Linked DNA regions of Homo sapiens. The protein of the gene in region 2 purifies or fractionates together with the protein of the main gene of each other region. This does not show direct contact. Each region holds a gene or a part of one and is shown on either strand. Other genes may lie near its edges.

The links. The genes of interacting proteins can lie anywhere in the genome.
Region 1: the proteins of KAT7 (region 2) and BRPF3 purify together in Homo sapiens (affinity purification with mass spectrometry; 4 studies listed by BioGRID and IntAct, with this or other methods). This does not show direct contact.

What each region holds. Positions count from the first base shown.
Region 1 is NC_000006.12:36,213,723-36,220,757, reverse strand, and holds part of BRPF3 (bromodomain and PHD finger-containing protein 3), read right to left. Parts: intron 6,899-7,035; coding exon of another isoform or gene 6,882-6,898; exon of another isoform or gene 6,879-6,881; coding exon 6,372-6,878; intron 2,842-6,371; coding exon 2,748-2,841; intron 1-2,747. UniProt on the Homo sapiens protein: Scaffold subunit of various histone acetyltransferase (HAT) complexes, such as the MOZ/MORF and HBO1 complexes, which have a histone H3 acetyltransferase activity.
Region 2 is NC_000017.11:49,784,394-49,791,680, reverse strand, and holds the start of KAT7 (histone acetyltransferase KAT7), read right to left. Parts: upstream 3,001-7,287; 5' UTR 2,847-3,000; coding exon 2,832-2,846; intron 2,619-2,831; exon of another isoform or gene 2,571-2,618; intron 1-2,570. UniProt on the Homo sapiens protein: Catalytic subunit of histone acetyltransferase HBO1 complexes, which specifically mediate acetylation of histone H3 at 'Lys-14' (H3K14ac), thereby regulating various processes, such as gene transcription, protein ubiquitination, immune regulation, stem cell pluripotent and self-renewal maintenance and embryonic development.

The DNA of each region.
Region 1 (7,035 bases), on a different chromosome or scaffold from region 2:
TTGGGAAAAAACAAAAAATACCCAGTTTACATTTAGGATTTAGTTCCCATTTACCCTATAAAAATCTGCCAACATATTAGAGAAATTGAGGCCTTGTACAAATGTAAAGTGCTAGTAATTTTATCAGGAAAGCCTCTCAAAGTTCACGTCAAGATGAGAAAAAGAAAAACAAATCAAAGTTCACATCAAGAATCTGGGGAGACATCTTCAAATACAACAGAAGACAGCACAGCAAAGTAGTTAAGAAATTAAACTCTTGGAGCCTATCTGGGTTCAAAACCCAGCTCTTGTTATCAGTTCTGTAACCTTCAGCAAGTTACTTAACTTCTCCGAGGCTTACACTCCCCATGTGTTGTTGTAAGGATTAATGAACGAACACACATAAAACTCTCAGTACAGCACATACCATGCAGTCAATAAACACAGCTGTAGTTATTGTCATACGAAGGATAGTAAATTTTAATGTCTTACTTAAAGTATTACAAACTGCTAATACTGTACTATAGAATGATGAGCTCTGAGAAGGATGAGCTCAATAAAATAGGATGCAACACCAAAAATAGGTCTGTATGTTCCTGATTTGTAGAAAAAAGCACAACTGACTCAATCATGGCCTGCATTTCAGCCCTTTCTCCAAGTTACCCCAGCCTAAGCAGACAACCCAACCTACAGTTATCTTATTTACTGGTTTAACATCCATATCCATGAGAACAGACACCTTAGAAGATAATCTTCATGAGAACAGGCACCTTAGTGCTTAGAACAGTACCTGGCATACAGTAGGTGTTCAGTTATCAATATTTGAATGAGTGATCTATAGAAAGCACATGTAGCACCAACCTGCTCAGAAAATCATCAGAAAAGATAAACCAAGGGGTAAGTGAAAAAGGGAGTGTGGGGGATGGGTTAGTGACCAGTTCTTTCAAGGTTATTTCTAATTCTGGGATTATATGATTCTGGTCTAATAAATAAGGTCTTCCCTTATATACTTATTACCACAGTATGGGGGGAAAAAGAAAAACAACCCTTGCAGTTGAAGCCTTTGGATCTCCTATTTTAAACCCTGAAATATTAATACATACTTCCTCCAAGGGGCCCCAGATAAATCAAGGGCATTGCACTGGAGTTCTGCAGAAAGGCAAACACGCCACCTGAATTAGCAGGCTAACCAGAGCCTGGCCTTGCTTGCTCTTGTGGCTCATAGCTGAAAAGAATGCCCTTCATAGAAGAAGGGGCCAACAACACACCTTTCACTTTTAGTCAAGAGCAAGAAAAGGATAGTTTGATGGGTCCAATCCTACCCTGACCCCAACAAAGTGGGCTTCCAGGTACCTTATCTTTGAAGGGAGTCAGGAACTTCAACCCAGGGCCAGGCTAGAAGCATCGTGTAAGATTCTGAAATCTTTCTCTTTCCTGTGCCTGATAATTTTTTCCCATCTACTTCCCCTATATCTCTGGAGGCTGCAATAGGAAGCTAGGGCAACTCTGAGGGTTGGCGGGGGGTAGGGGAATCTCAGAGAAACCACAGCAGGGAACCAGTCCAGGCCAACGAGTAGCTGGGGACCCCCTCAGCCCTACCAGTAGTCCTACAGCCCAGGTAGACTGAATGCCTAAAAGAACACATGCCCAGTCTGCCTTGGAAGCACTTCAAACACAAATAGTCTTCTGGTGCTGCCCTGGGACCTTTCCTCCCCTACTCTGAACCTAAGACCCATTCAGCAGTCATGGGTGGGGCCATGACATTAGCCTTCAGGACAAGTCACTTTTCCTTTGTGGCAGTGAGGGTTTCTCATTTCTAAGAGTCCTCCCCGCCCTGGTGTCTTGCAGAACACAGAACACAGAGCAGGGGCTCCATAAGCTCTTGTGCCTGGAAGAAACTTTAAGGTCTGGTCTGAGAAATCCTCCCTTCAGATAAAAGAATGGGAAGAAATCCATCTCTTTTCAGCTCAAGGACAGCAGAAGAGCTTTGGGGCCTTTGTCTGAATAAAAGGCAATTCCAGGCCAGGCGCAGTGGCTCACGCCTGTAATTCCAGCACTTTGGGATGCTGCGGCGGGCAGATCACTTGAGGTCAGGAGTTCAAGACCAGTCTGGCCAACATGGTGAAACCTCATCTCTACTAAAATACAAAAATTAGCTAGGCGTGGTGGCACGTGCCTATACTCCCAGCTACTCAAGAGGCAGAGGCAGGAGAATCACTTGAACCCAGGAGGCGGAGGTTGCAGTGAGCCGAGATCGGGCCACTGCACTCCAGCCTGGGCAGCAAGCAAGACTCCGTCTCAAAAAAAAAAAAAAAAAGGCAATTCCAAATTTCCTACTTGGTCATTTCATACACCTACACCACACCTCTATAAAGAGGCTATGACGCCCCAAAAGGCAAAGAGCAAAACCAACTCTGTAATGGCTGGGTTGTCTAAATGTGTGTAGGGGCAGCAGGGGACTTTGGCTCAAATGTTAATTTCACTGAACAACAGGAGATTTAGCTTTTCTTATCCTCTAGAGTCCAAATTCAGCCCCACAAACCCTGTAAGCATCAGCACTACTCTTCCTCTCTCAGATCAGATCTGAGAGTCAAGGGTCACCCTGTTTCCTAGGAACTCCCAGAGTTACAGATAAGAGGCCTCAGGAAATAGCAGGAGTGGGGGAAGAGAGAAAAAGGTAAGCAGGAAGAGGTTCAATCTGTAGCTGAATGGAGAGTAAAAGGAGGGGTAGCAGAGCTGCTGACAAAGCTTTGGGAATGTGTTCTTACCTGCAAGCTTCAAATGCCAGTCCACCACTGAGACCCAAACTACATTCAGAGTCAGACCCGCTTTCGGTGTGTTTTCCAAAGCCGTTGGTCATGCCTGCCAAGGACACACACAGTGAGTCTGAGTGCAGAAATCCCCCTTCCCAACACATGCTACAGGGTGAGGCAGCCACCTCAGGAGGGCTCAGTGACGAGTGGAGAGGATGGCTATTCCTTTCCCTGTGAGAAATGGGTCTTGGGTGATAGAGAAGATCTGATCAAGATAAAAGTTTGGGGGGAAATATTGCTGGCTAGGGCAAGGAGCAGACACTGCAATTTCCTTCCCATCCTTCTGCTTTTTGTTTAAGGAAACCATAGCACACAGCTCACTCAGCTACTGTCATTTGGCTACACAGGGAGATACTAAGACTTCTCCTACCCTGGCTGGCTCACAAGTCCTTGGATCTGCTTCTAATTTCAAACCTCGATTATCAGGTAGCCTTCTCTGCCTTTTTCAGGAGCCCAACCACCTTGCCTCTTCAGATAAAGACTCACATAACCTATGCATCACACAGCTGGCAACAGCTAGTTTGATTCTTTGGGGGTGGTGTCAAGAGAGACTAGAGATGGATAAGGGCCCTTTGTCAACCACACCCTGAGATATCTCACAGGGCTAATCCAAAGTGAGGATGGGGGCACTCTTCAGCGGAACTAAAGCAGCCCGGAACTTCCTGGGAGGGAGAGTCAGAACCTGGGGTTCTAGGCTGGGCTCTGAAACACAGGTTCCTTTTCTCTTGCTTTGAGGTCTCTTGACCTCTCCTTTGGTGAAGTGAAGATAATACCTTACTTACTTACTATTCAGTATGTATGAGAGAAGGTCTGTTTATAGTGGGGAGCCCTTCAGAGGCGAATGAAGGCTGTTTGGTCATCCCAGGTATATGACCTTGAAGTGAAGGCTTCCACTCTCCTATCTATCCAATTTATTTTTCTATTTTTTGAGATAGGGTCTCGCTCTGTTGCCCAGGCGGAGTGCAGTGGTGTAAACAAGGTTCACTGGAGCCTCAATAGCATGGGTTCAAGTGATCCCCTGCCTCAACCTCCTGAGTAGGTGTGACCACAGGCATGAATGAGCCCTATGCCCAGCTAACTTTTTAACTTTGCAGAAACAGGGTCTTGCCATGTTGCTCAGGCTGGTCTCGAGCTCCTGGGCTCAAGTAATCCTTCTGCCTCAGCCTCCCAAAGTGCTGGGATTACAGGAATGAGTCACTGTGCCTGGCCTTTATCCAATTGCTAGCCACACTAAAAGTCCTATAATTCTAACAGCTGAGCCAAGAGGTGTACAGAGATGGGCCAGGCACCTGATTTGAAAGCTGTAGATTACAGACACCGTAACTAGAAAACTGTGAGGCAAGTCCCTCCTATAAGAGCAGGTGTCTGAGCCACAATGTCTATCCTCTGACCTGGCTCTGCCTCTAACATTATGACCACAATTTAAATCACTGAAGCCATCTGTGTCTTGGGTGCCTCACTTACGAAGGATCAACACCTCTTTTTGTGAGATTCAACTAAGGTTGTATAGAAGTATCCCTGAGTGCCAGGCAACTGGGATGGTGAGAGACAGGATTCTAGCAGTATCTCCAAGCAACAGGCCCCCTCAGGTTGGATGGGCCTCATGTACAGAGCTACTTCCCAACAGCAGGATCTTTCATTCTTTTAATGCAGTGTTCTCAGCACTGTATGGCTAAGCCTGATTCAACTGACAGGATGACAGTAACTGCTACCATCTACTGCTATATGCCAAGTGCTTTATAAAGGGTATTTCTAGTTCTTAGAACCCTGCAAGGTAGGTATCAGAAACCCCATATTAAGAATAAGGAAACAGGCTCAGAGAAGTTAATTAATTTTCCTGTCGTTACACAGCTAGTAAGAAATTGGGGATTTGAGTGCAGGTATGCCTAAATCCAGGCCTTAAGCTCTTGCCTCTATATACCAACTTACTCCCCTAACACAGAAAAGTTTTGGCCAGACGAGATGGGAAGGTATTGTTGAAAACAAAATGTCAGGCAAGAAGACAGAAAAGCAAGTGCTGGCCACACAGTCCAAAGTCACCACATAAAAGTACATGAGGGACACAAAGAGCAAAAGCCAAGAGCAGCCCTCCCTGCCAAGAAAGTGGGTCTTCCCTAACCCACCAAGACCTAAGTAGTCTGCCCGGCATTCAAAGTCCTTCACATTCAGTCCCATCTCACCCATCCAGTCTTGGCTCCTGATGCTCTGGGAAGCCCCTCTCTAAGCTGTCCCTCACAGAGATTCTGTCCTCCTTGTTCCCACACACCCAGGCCTGAGGCCTTCATAACCATTCCTTTCCAGTCTGCCCTCATCCCACAGGGCCAGCTCAGCCCAACTCCTACAGCTCAAATTCCCTGAACACCTCTAGCAATGCTACCTCTCACCTGACAAATAACAACATACTGTCCACCACTGTGATTTCTCTACATTTTGAGAGACTCATTTGCCCAATGGCCTGTGAACCTTCCAGAGCTGGAATTAAGTCTGACTTATTTTATTACTTCCTCACAGCTACTCATGACTAGCTCCTGCTGGATGTATATTAAGAACACTTTAGGTGGGGCGCGGTGGCTCATGCCTGTAATCCCATCACTTTGGGAGGCTGAGGCGGGCAAATCACTTGAGGTCAGGTGACCAGCCTGGCCAACATGGTGAAACCCCATCTCCACTAAAAACACAAAAATTAGCAAGGCGTGGTGGTGGGCACCTGTAGTCCAGCTACTTGGGAGGCTGAGGCAGGAGAATTGCTTGAACCCAGGAGGCAGAGGTTGCAGTGAGCTGAGATCATGCCACTGCACTCTAGCCTGGGCGACAGAGCAAGACTCATCTCAAAAAAACAAAAAAACAAAAAAAAACCCTCTCTTTAGTGATGGAACCTCCACTACCTACCTCTATCACCACCTCACCCCACCCCACCCCCTCTGCTGCAGCCAAACTGGTTCCCTCAGTGTTCCTCAGACATGCAGGCATGTTCCCACCTCCAGGACCTATGTACTTTCTAGTCTATCTTTTTGGAATGTTCTTCCCCTAGACATACAAATAGCTCATGCCTTCAACTCCTTCAGATCTTTACTCAAACGTTACCTCCTTAGAAAACCTGGCCACCCTCTCTAAGACCACTCTAGCATTCCTTCCCTGCTGGATCTTTCTCCAAATCTTCTAATACAAGATACGGTTTACTCATTTGCTTTTAATATATTCCCCCATAAGAGAGCAGATTTTTGTCTGTTTTGCTCATTGATTTTTTCCCCCAATGCCTAGAACAGTGCCTAACACAAATATTTGATGAATGAACTGAAATGAAGGTAGGAATCATTTTACTTTATACAACATTGCATTACCCTCAGGGCCAATGAATCCCAGACACAATCTGGCTCTCTGGAAAATACCTGCTCAAAGCCTATTTCCCCTGGCTGCTACTAACATGCCAGGCCCAACTGTGAGCTATGGTGCCCTCAATGCTACTATTGCTGTCCAATGGTGCCATTAGAGAGATGGCCAATTGGGGAAGGTGCTGGTTGGCAAGGCAAAGCAGAAAAGCAGATGCGAAGTATCAAGAGAAGTCACAGGCAGGGTCACCTGTCTCTTCCTCCTGCTGGGGGGACCTCTCCCCTTCGCTCTCACTACAGCTCCTGCTCCTTGGCCGCTTCCGGGAGTGGCGCTCTTCCTCGATGCTGGCTGGAGAGGCAGGAGAGCCTGCCACACCATGGTCCTCGCCATTCTCCAGGACCCTGTCTGGGCTTCTCTGTAGCTTAACCCCATTCTTGGCCTTCTTGAAGAGGACTGATGTGCGGCGACCCACACCACTAAGTGGGGTACCGGCCGGGGTGTCAGGGGCCATGAGGGATAGTCTGTTGATGCCATTGTCACTGAGCAAGCGTTGCAAAGGCTCATTCCCTAGCTGCAGTGGTGATTTTTCCAAGAGCTCATCTTCTTCCACCTTTCTGGGCTTTAGGAACCTGCTTGGAGGTTTGCTATCATTAATGGGTTTCAGAGTAGGGGGCTCCGGGGGGGATTCTTGCTCAGACAAGGAAGGTGCAGGCCCAGTGGGCTCCAGGGTTGGCGGAGGAGGCAGTTTGGAGTCATCTATTAGAAAAAAAGAGAATCTGCTTGAACATTTTAGAAAGAGTCTGCTCCTACAAGCTAGATACTGACACTGACAACCAAGGACCAAAAGCATTGGCTGTTATAAGGCTTGAGATGCATTCAAGGTCTTAGATCTGAAGCAAAGAGAAAGGAGGAT
Region 2 (7,287 bases):
TTTTGTTAAATAAATGAAGAGCTTCCGTTTCATTCGCTCTCATTGCCCAGGCTGGAGTGCAAGGGCGCAATCGTGGCTCACTGCAACCTCCGCCTCCCGGGTTCAAGTGATTCTCCTGCCTCAGCCTCCCGAGTAGCTGGGACTACAGGCGCCCGCCACCATGCCCAGCTAATTTTTGTATTTTTAGTAGAGACGGGGTTTCACTATGTTGGCCAGGCTGGTCTTGAACACCTGACCTCAGGTGATCCACCCGCCTTGGCCTCCCAAAGTGCTGGGATTACAGACGTGAGCCACCACACCCGGCCATGAAGAGAATTAATTCTTACTGTATTAGTACTAAGTATTAACCAAGACCATTTGGAGATCAATATCACAAAAAAAGGTCCACTGTAGTGAGAAAATCGTTGGTGCTGGACCTCATTTAACTTAGAGTAGCTTTTGTTCAATGTCTCCATGAAAAGCTATCACATTTTTTAAAAACCATACACTATCTCAAAATATCATGGACCACAACTCTAATCCCAAAAGAATTTAAGCAGAAAAAGATGAAAATTGTTAGTGCGTATGCCATCTATCCTTGACGTTTCTCCACATGAAAGCCATCTATCTTCCAAAAAGGCAGCTTGCACATGAAGACTCATGGGTATTCAAAAACAGTTGTTTTCAAAACCATCTTTTCAATGAGCAAGGATTTGTCAATTATTATCCTCCTGAGGAGTTCTTTCTTAGCCATAAAGATAACTTTTATCAATTAAGCACTAACACTATACCCTTTACAAAACCAGAAAGGAAAAAATATTTACTGAAAACAATACAAAGATTCACACTGTAAGTCCCAATTATTTATTCAAAACCCTGAGGGCCAGTTGTGTTTAGAATTTGTAATTGTTTTGGATTTTTAGAAGGGGAGTACTTTGCATGTATCCTGCAAATACCACCCAATAACAAAACATAATAGTATTTCTGCAGCAAAAAATATAAACAGTCACACTAAATGAGACACACAAAAACCATAAGTAGCCTCAGGACAGATTAAGACAGGTTTGCCGCCAAACAGGTTACTAAAAAAATGTACATTTTCAAGTAACTCCCGGTATTTGGGAAATTAAGAAAGAGGACTGTGGCCCTATTTCAAGGCACCAATATTATTCCTGCATTTGGTGAGCCTTTACATACATACCACCGGCCGGGCGTGGTGGCTCATGCCTGTAATCCCAGTACTTTGGGAGGCCGAGGCGGGTGGATCACCTGAGGTCAGGAGTTCGAAACCACCCTGACCAACATGGTGAAATCCCGTCTCTATTAAACATACAAAAATTAGCTGGGCGTCATGGAATCCGCCTGTAATCCCAGCTACTAGAGAGACTGAGGCAGGAGAATCGCTTGAACCCGGGAGGCGGAGGTTGCAGTGAGCCAACATCACGCCATCGCACTCCGACCTGGGCAACAAGAGCAAAACCTCGTCTCAAAAACAAACAAACAAAAAAACACATACATACCACCCACCAGCTGAGGTCATTTTAGGAGACATTAAAAAGTGTACATTTTCAACCTGAAAAGCCGCTGTGAAGAGAAAGATTTCTATTGATATGAGCAAGAATACCACCCAGTTTTCCAAGTATCTTAAGGGTAACCTGCCAGGAAATGAGCAAGAATCACAGAAAACGGCTGAAATGAAGGGGGAATCTTAAAAGTCACCATTATAGTCTAATTACCGAGATATTTAAAGCCTTGACGTGAGACTTATTCCTTCCTGGCTTGATCCTGGAACTCAGCTCTTCTCTGTGGCTTTTACCAATATATCTCCCATTGTACTCCAGGGCAGACTTAACTGCTCCTTCACTTCCTTCCAGCAACACCTTGTATACACCTCCAAGCTGAGAACTTACTAGATCCTTCTAAGATTATTCATGTCTGTTTTCTCCTATCGGGCTGTGACACCCTTAAGCCAGGGATCACATCTAATTAATTTCTGAATCCACAGCAACCACCGCGCAGAAAGTAGTCAATAGACATTTGTTGAATTGAGTTAGATTTGTTCTATATTCTGGATCTGCCACTGCCTGAGTGGCTTGCGGCACTCCATGGGCCTCCGTTAGTTCAGCTGTAAGAAGAAACGACGGGGCCATTCCTGGGTGATCTTCTAAGTGCCTTCTAATTCTAGAAGTTTTTAGTTTTTACCAACTGCATTTTCTAGGCGCTGTCGAACTAGCAAATAAGGAAAGAGGCAACTGGCCTGAGAGGGATCCCCTGCGAGTGGGCGCTGGCTTCCCACCACCCAGTCTTCTGCTTTGTTGTGCCCCTCACCTGGAAGGTAACGAGGCCTCCAAAACCCCGCCTCTGCACCTATCAGCGTCCCCGCTCGGAAAGGCGGGGATTCGGGCCACCCAATCGAGGTCCGCCTAAGCCGCGCCCCCACAGGACAGACTGCCAACCTCGACCAATCAGGAGAGGAGGGATCGTTCTCTCCAGCCAGTGGGAGAGCGCTGGGGCCGGGGCCAGACACCGCCCCCGCACGCGGGGAGGTGACCGTTGAGCCCAAACAGGCGGCGTCACCAGCCAATCAATATGCTTCCAGACGTTTCAGCGACCAATTAATAAGAACGCCTCCGATCCAGGCAAGCAGAGGGCGGGAATAGTTGCAAGCATAGGCCGAGGCCAGGGTCGGGCCCACATTTTTCTGTTGGGTATGGACAGAAGAGAGGGTAGCTGAACAAGGTTCGGGGGAGCGGAAAGTTGGGACCCAAGCACTGTGAGGCGTGGCCAACTGCGTCACGGTGCTCAATCGACTGTCCTTAGAAACCCGCCATCCCTCCTCTCCCGTTTCTCACCTTCCTTCGCGGCATTGCCGGCGGCTGCGGCCCGACGGTTCCGATTCGGGCAGCGGCGGCAGCAGCAGGAACGGTGGCTCCGGCGGGCTCCGTGGCGGCCTCTGTATCAGTCCCAATCCTGCGGACGATCCCTAGTGCCTCCTGCCTCTCAGCGTCTGGAGCGTTCTGCGCAGGCGCCGCGGGCTGAAGCGCTTTTTCCTTCACTTCCGGCTGGGTCTCGCGTCACCTGACGTTACGGGCCAGAGAGGGTGCTGGGAAGTTCGATCCTTTTGGTGAAGCTAGTGGGCGCCATTTTGAAGTTGGGCAGAAAGTGACTCCAGTGGTGGAACCCGGAGCCAACCATTTTTAGTTACGTGAGTGGCTCTGTTTGTGGGCGTGGGTAGCCATTCTTGTTTGGGGCAGAAGCCTGACAGTTGATGTAAACGGTTCTCATCTTTACCTTGGGCAAAATTTCGTTTTAATTTCTAGAGTCGAGGAAGGAAACCCCCCAGAATCCATCAGGTTGCTGAGATTAGATTTAACCCCTTCGTAGCCTGATTGTTTAAAGGACGTTTCCGTTTATTATATAAACTCAAAGTTGCGGAGGGATGTTTTGTAAAAGAAACTTTGTATTTTAAGAAACATCGTGGTCTCGAAGGGGTGGGAATGGGGAATTGAAAAAGGAACTAACGGATAGCGTCCGCCATCAAGTTTCCTGTCTGGTAGAGGAGACATTGTCCTTGCCCTTAGCTAACAGCAAGTGAGTTAGTTGATGTCGCGGGGAGGAGGCAAAACCATTCTCCAGAAGCTGCAGGTCAAATAATTCCCAATTTAGCTCTGTGGCGAGTGCCCACTTCCTAACCGCACTGTGTTTGGGTTTGAGACCACTGGGGGCCCTGGGGTGAAAAATGTGATTTGAAAGTGGGGAATGCAGTACCAGAGTCAGAAAAGCTTTGAACCCCATTTAGCTCAAATGACCTCTGGCATCCAGATGCTTGAGCAGAGAGTTACGAGGCGGAGGAAGAGGAAGGAATGTTTTTAGTGAAGTTGAAGCCCCCAAAAGAATGGACATTTAAATAATAATGAGAGGGCCTAGGAAGGAGAAGTTGGTCACAGATACTAGGCTGAAAGAAGAGCCTTAAGAAAAGGCTGGAAAGTGGAGAGCAGGCGTTGAGGATTTAACCTCTCCGGAGGAAAGGCCTTGAGAGGACCAAGTCTTGACCAATTGCGACTGGGTGGAACCCAGGCACGCTCAGTCATTAAGTTAGGATCCCGAACCCCAATTTCAAACTGAGGCCCCGTTAAGATGGAGATTTCCCCCAGGAGCAGGGCTAAAGAACAAAGAAGCAGAAGGTAAATATCTGATTGATGTGCTAAGTAAAGAACTCTAAAGATTTAAAGTTCCAGACCTTTAGCCAGCACTCTCCTTGGGGATGTCCTGGGCCAGTGTTGACACAGGCAGCTTTTAGTATTTAATACTTAGCTTTTAGTGCTTAGTATAAATACCTTTGATAACCTACTTAGGTTGAACTGCACGTAAGAACTTATTTGAAAATGGTTCACATTACTTCTCACCACTTAAGCATTTAATTTCATGTAGCCCCTCACCACTTAAGCATTTAATTTCATACATTACTCTGTTATTTTGCACTCACGGATATGTTCCTGAGGTTACATTTGAATGTTCTGGCTCCCCAACTGGTGGTAAGGATCTCTTACATTAAGAGCATATCTCAGTTATTTCATACCATCCTACTTTTTTTCTCTCTCTTCTTTTTTTTTCTTTCAAGACAGAGTCTTGCTGTGTTGCCCAGGCTGGAGTGCAATGGCTGGATGTCAGTTCACTGCAAGCTCCACCTCGTGGGCTCAAGGGATTCTCTTGCCTCAGCCTCCCGAGTAGCTGGGACTGCAGGCGTGTGCCACCACACCTGGCTAATTTTTGTATTTTTTGTAGAGACAGAGTTTCACCATGCTGCCCAGGCTGGTCTCGACCTACTGAGCTGAACTACTGTCTCGGCCTTCCAGAGTGCTGGGATTAAGGTGTGAGCCACCACTCCCAGCCATACCAGCCTTTCTTTTTTTTTTTTTTTTTCTGAGACAGGGTTTTGCTCTTGTTGCCAGGCTGGAGGGCAATGGCACGAGCTCGGCTCACCGCAGCCTCCGCCTCCCGGGTTCAGGCGATTCTCCTGCCTCAACCTCCCGAGTAGCTGAGATTACAGGCGCCCGCCACCACATGTGGCTACTTTTTGTATTTTTAGTAGAGACAGTGTTTCTCCATGTTGGTCAGGTTGGTCTTGAACTCCTGACCTCAGGTGATCCACCCGCCTCAGCCTCCCAAAGTGCTGGGATTACAGGTGTGAGCCACTGCGCCTGGCTCATACCATCCTTTCCAATGGTGCTCAAACCTCGTTCTTCCCACAGTAAATGCTTGCTACTCAGTAAGAATATCATTACTGTTTTACAGTCTCTGAATGTATAGCGCTCAGAGATGGTGAAGTTATCCTCCCTGGAAATTAGTGTTTTAGAATAAGATCTTATCCTGACTTGCATCCGTCACACAAATACCAGCATTACAGATGTTCGACGTTAGTTAATTTCTTATGCTAGATTCCCTAAGACTGCAGCTGACACTAAAGAGTTTACAGTTTCATTTAGATATGGTTCTTGTCCTTGGAAAGTGTACACTCTGGCAGAAAGATGAAAAAACTAACACCAGTAGGATAGAAACATGATCATAAGGAAAAAAATGTGTATAGTACTTGAAAGTAGACCAGCCAGGTATATTTAGAATGGGGAAGGGGAGGATCTTAAAAGCTTATTTCTTCTTCTTTTTTTAAAAAACCAAATATAATATTTACTTTGAGAGTCATGTTCATCACAACACAATTAGCTTTCCAAGCAGGAACTGATGTTGATTTCAATGCCTCTGACTGGTTGCCCCCTGGCTATCCTCAATCACCAGACTTCACGTTGACACTCTCGACAGTTCTCCTTGCCTTTCTATTTTCTCAGGCTTTTCTTCCTGCCTGGATGCATCTCCTAACCCTCAATAAAATTTTATTTTTTCAGAAAATCTTTTCCAATTCATTCTTTGTAAGGTAGTAGGGCGTAATGATATGTTATTTTGCACTTAACTGCTGGATTTGTTATTTTCCTTGTACAATTTGGTAGATAATTCTGTTCATTTCCCTTCCCAAACAGATAATAGAAACATAGATAAATCATGTTTATTGTATCATCAGCTGTACTAGTGTCCAGTACAGGGCTTTGATGTCAGATCTGAATTTTAATCTCCGCTCTGCTGCTTCCTACCTGCATTACTCTTGGACAAGTTTTTGTTTTTGTTTTTTGTTTTTTAAGAGACAGTGTCTCACTCTTGTCACCCAGTCTGGAGTGCAGTGGCACAATCATAGCTCACTGCAACCTTGATCTCCTGGGCCAAGCGATCCTCCCACGTCAGCCTCCCGAGTAGCTAGGACTACAGGTACACACCACCATGCCTGGCTAATTTTTAAATTATTTGTAGAGATGAGGTCTTGCTACATTGCCCAGACTAGTCTCGAACTCCTGGCCTCAAGCCATCCTCCCATCTGAGCCTCCCAAAGCACTGGGATTACAGGCATGAGCCATGCCCGGCCTTGGACAAGTTTTAAATTTGTTTGTGTCTCAGTTTTCTCACCTGTGATGTGGGGACATTAATAGCCACCTCACAAGGTTGTAAGGAATAAAGAAGATGAGTGTTGTAAAGCTCTTTGCACAGTTCCTGACATGGAGTAATTGCTCAATAAATGGCTATTGTTATTTATATTTCCAGTCACTCTAATCATGGCTATAACATTCTAATGTTAGTGACTATATATTTACATGGTCTCAGTGATTGTTTGCTTTTATCTGTTCAACCTCTTTAACTCTGTTCAACCTCTGTTCAACCACTTTAACTGAAGACATACAGAGTGATTACCCAGGCATTAATCACCCAGGTACCAGGCACTGAGTTATACCCCATGGACAAAACACCAACTTTCCCCTAAAGGAGCTTAGAATCCAGTAGGGAAGACAAGCCAGTGAGCACACACTTACAAAACACTGTAGAGTATTACATGGGAAAATAGGGAGATAAGCAAGGTTCAGAAGTGCTACAGAGGAGGAGGTAGAGTGTTTCATCTGGAAAGTTTAGGAAAGGATTCATAAAAGACGTGAAGCAAGAGTGGAATTTCACAGGATGAATGTTTGCCAGTAAACAAGGACAATATAAGGGTTTTCCATGCAAAGAAAACAGAATGTGCAATAGTAGAGAGGTGTGGAGGAGCATTATCTATGGGTGCCGGGGAGGGTACATAAGAGGCATGGTTTTGGGAACCAGTTCATGCAGAGTGTTCAGCACCCTTCTGTGGAGACTGAACTGGAAGTGGTAGGCAATTTCTGAAAGTCCTTAAGCAGAGGAGGCCGCCAGTCAGACATGCATTTTAGCAATCTC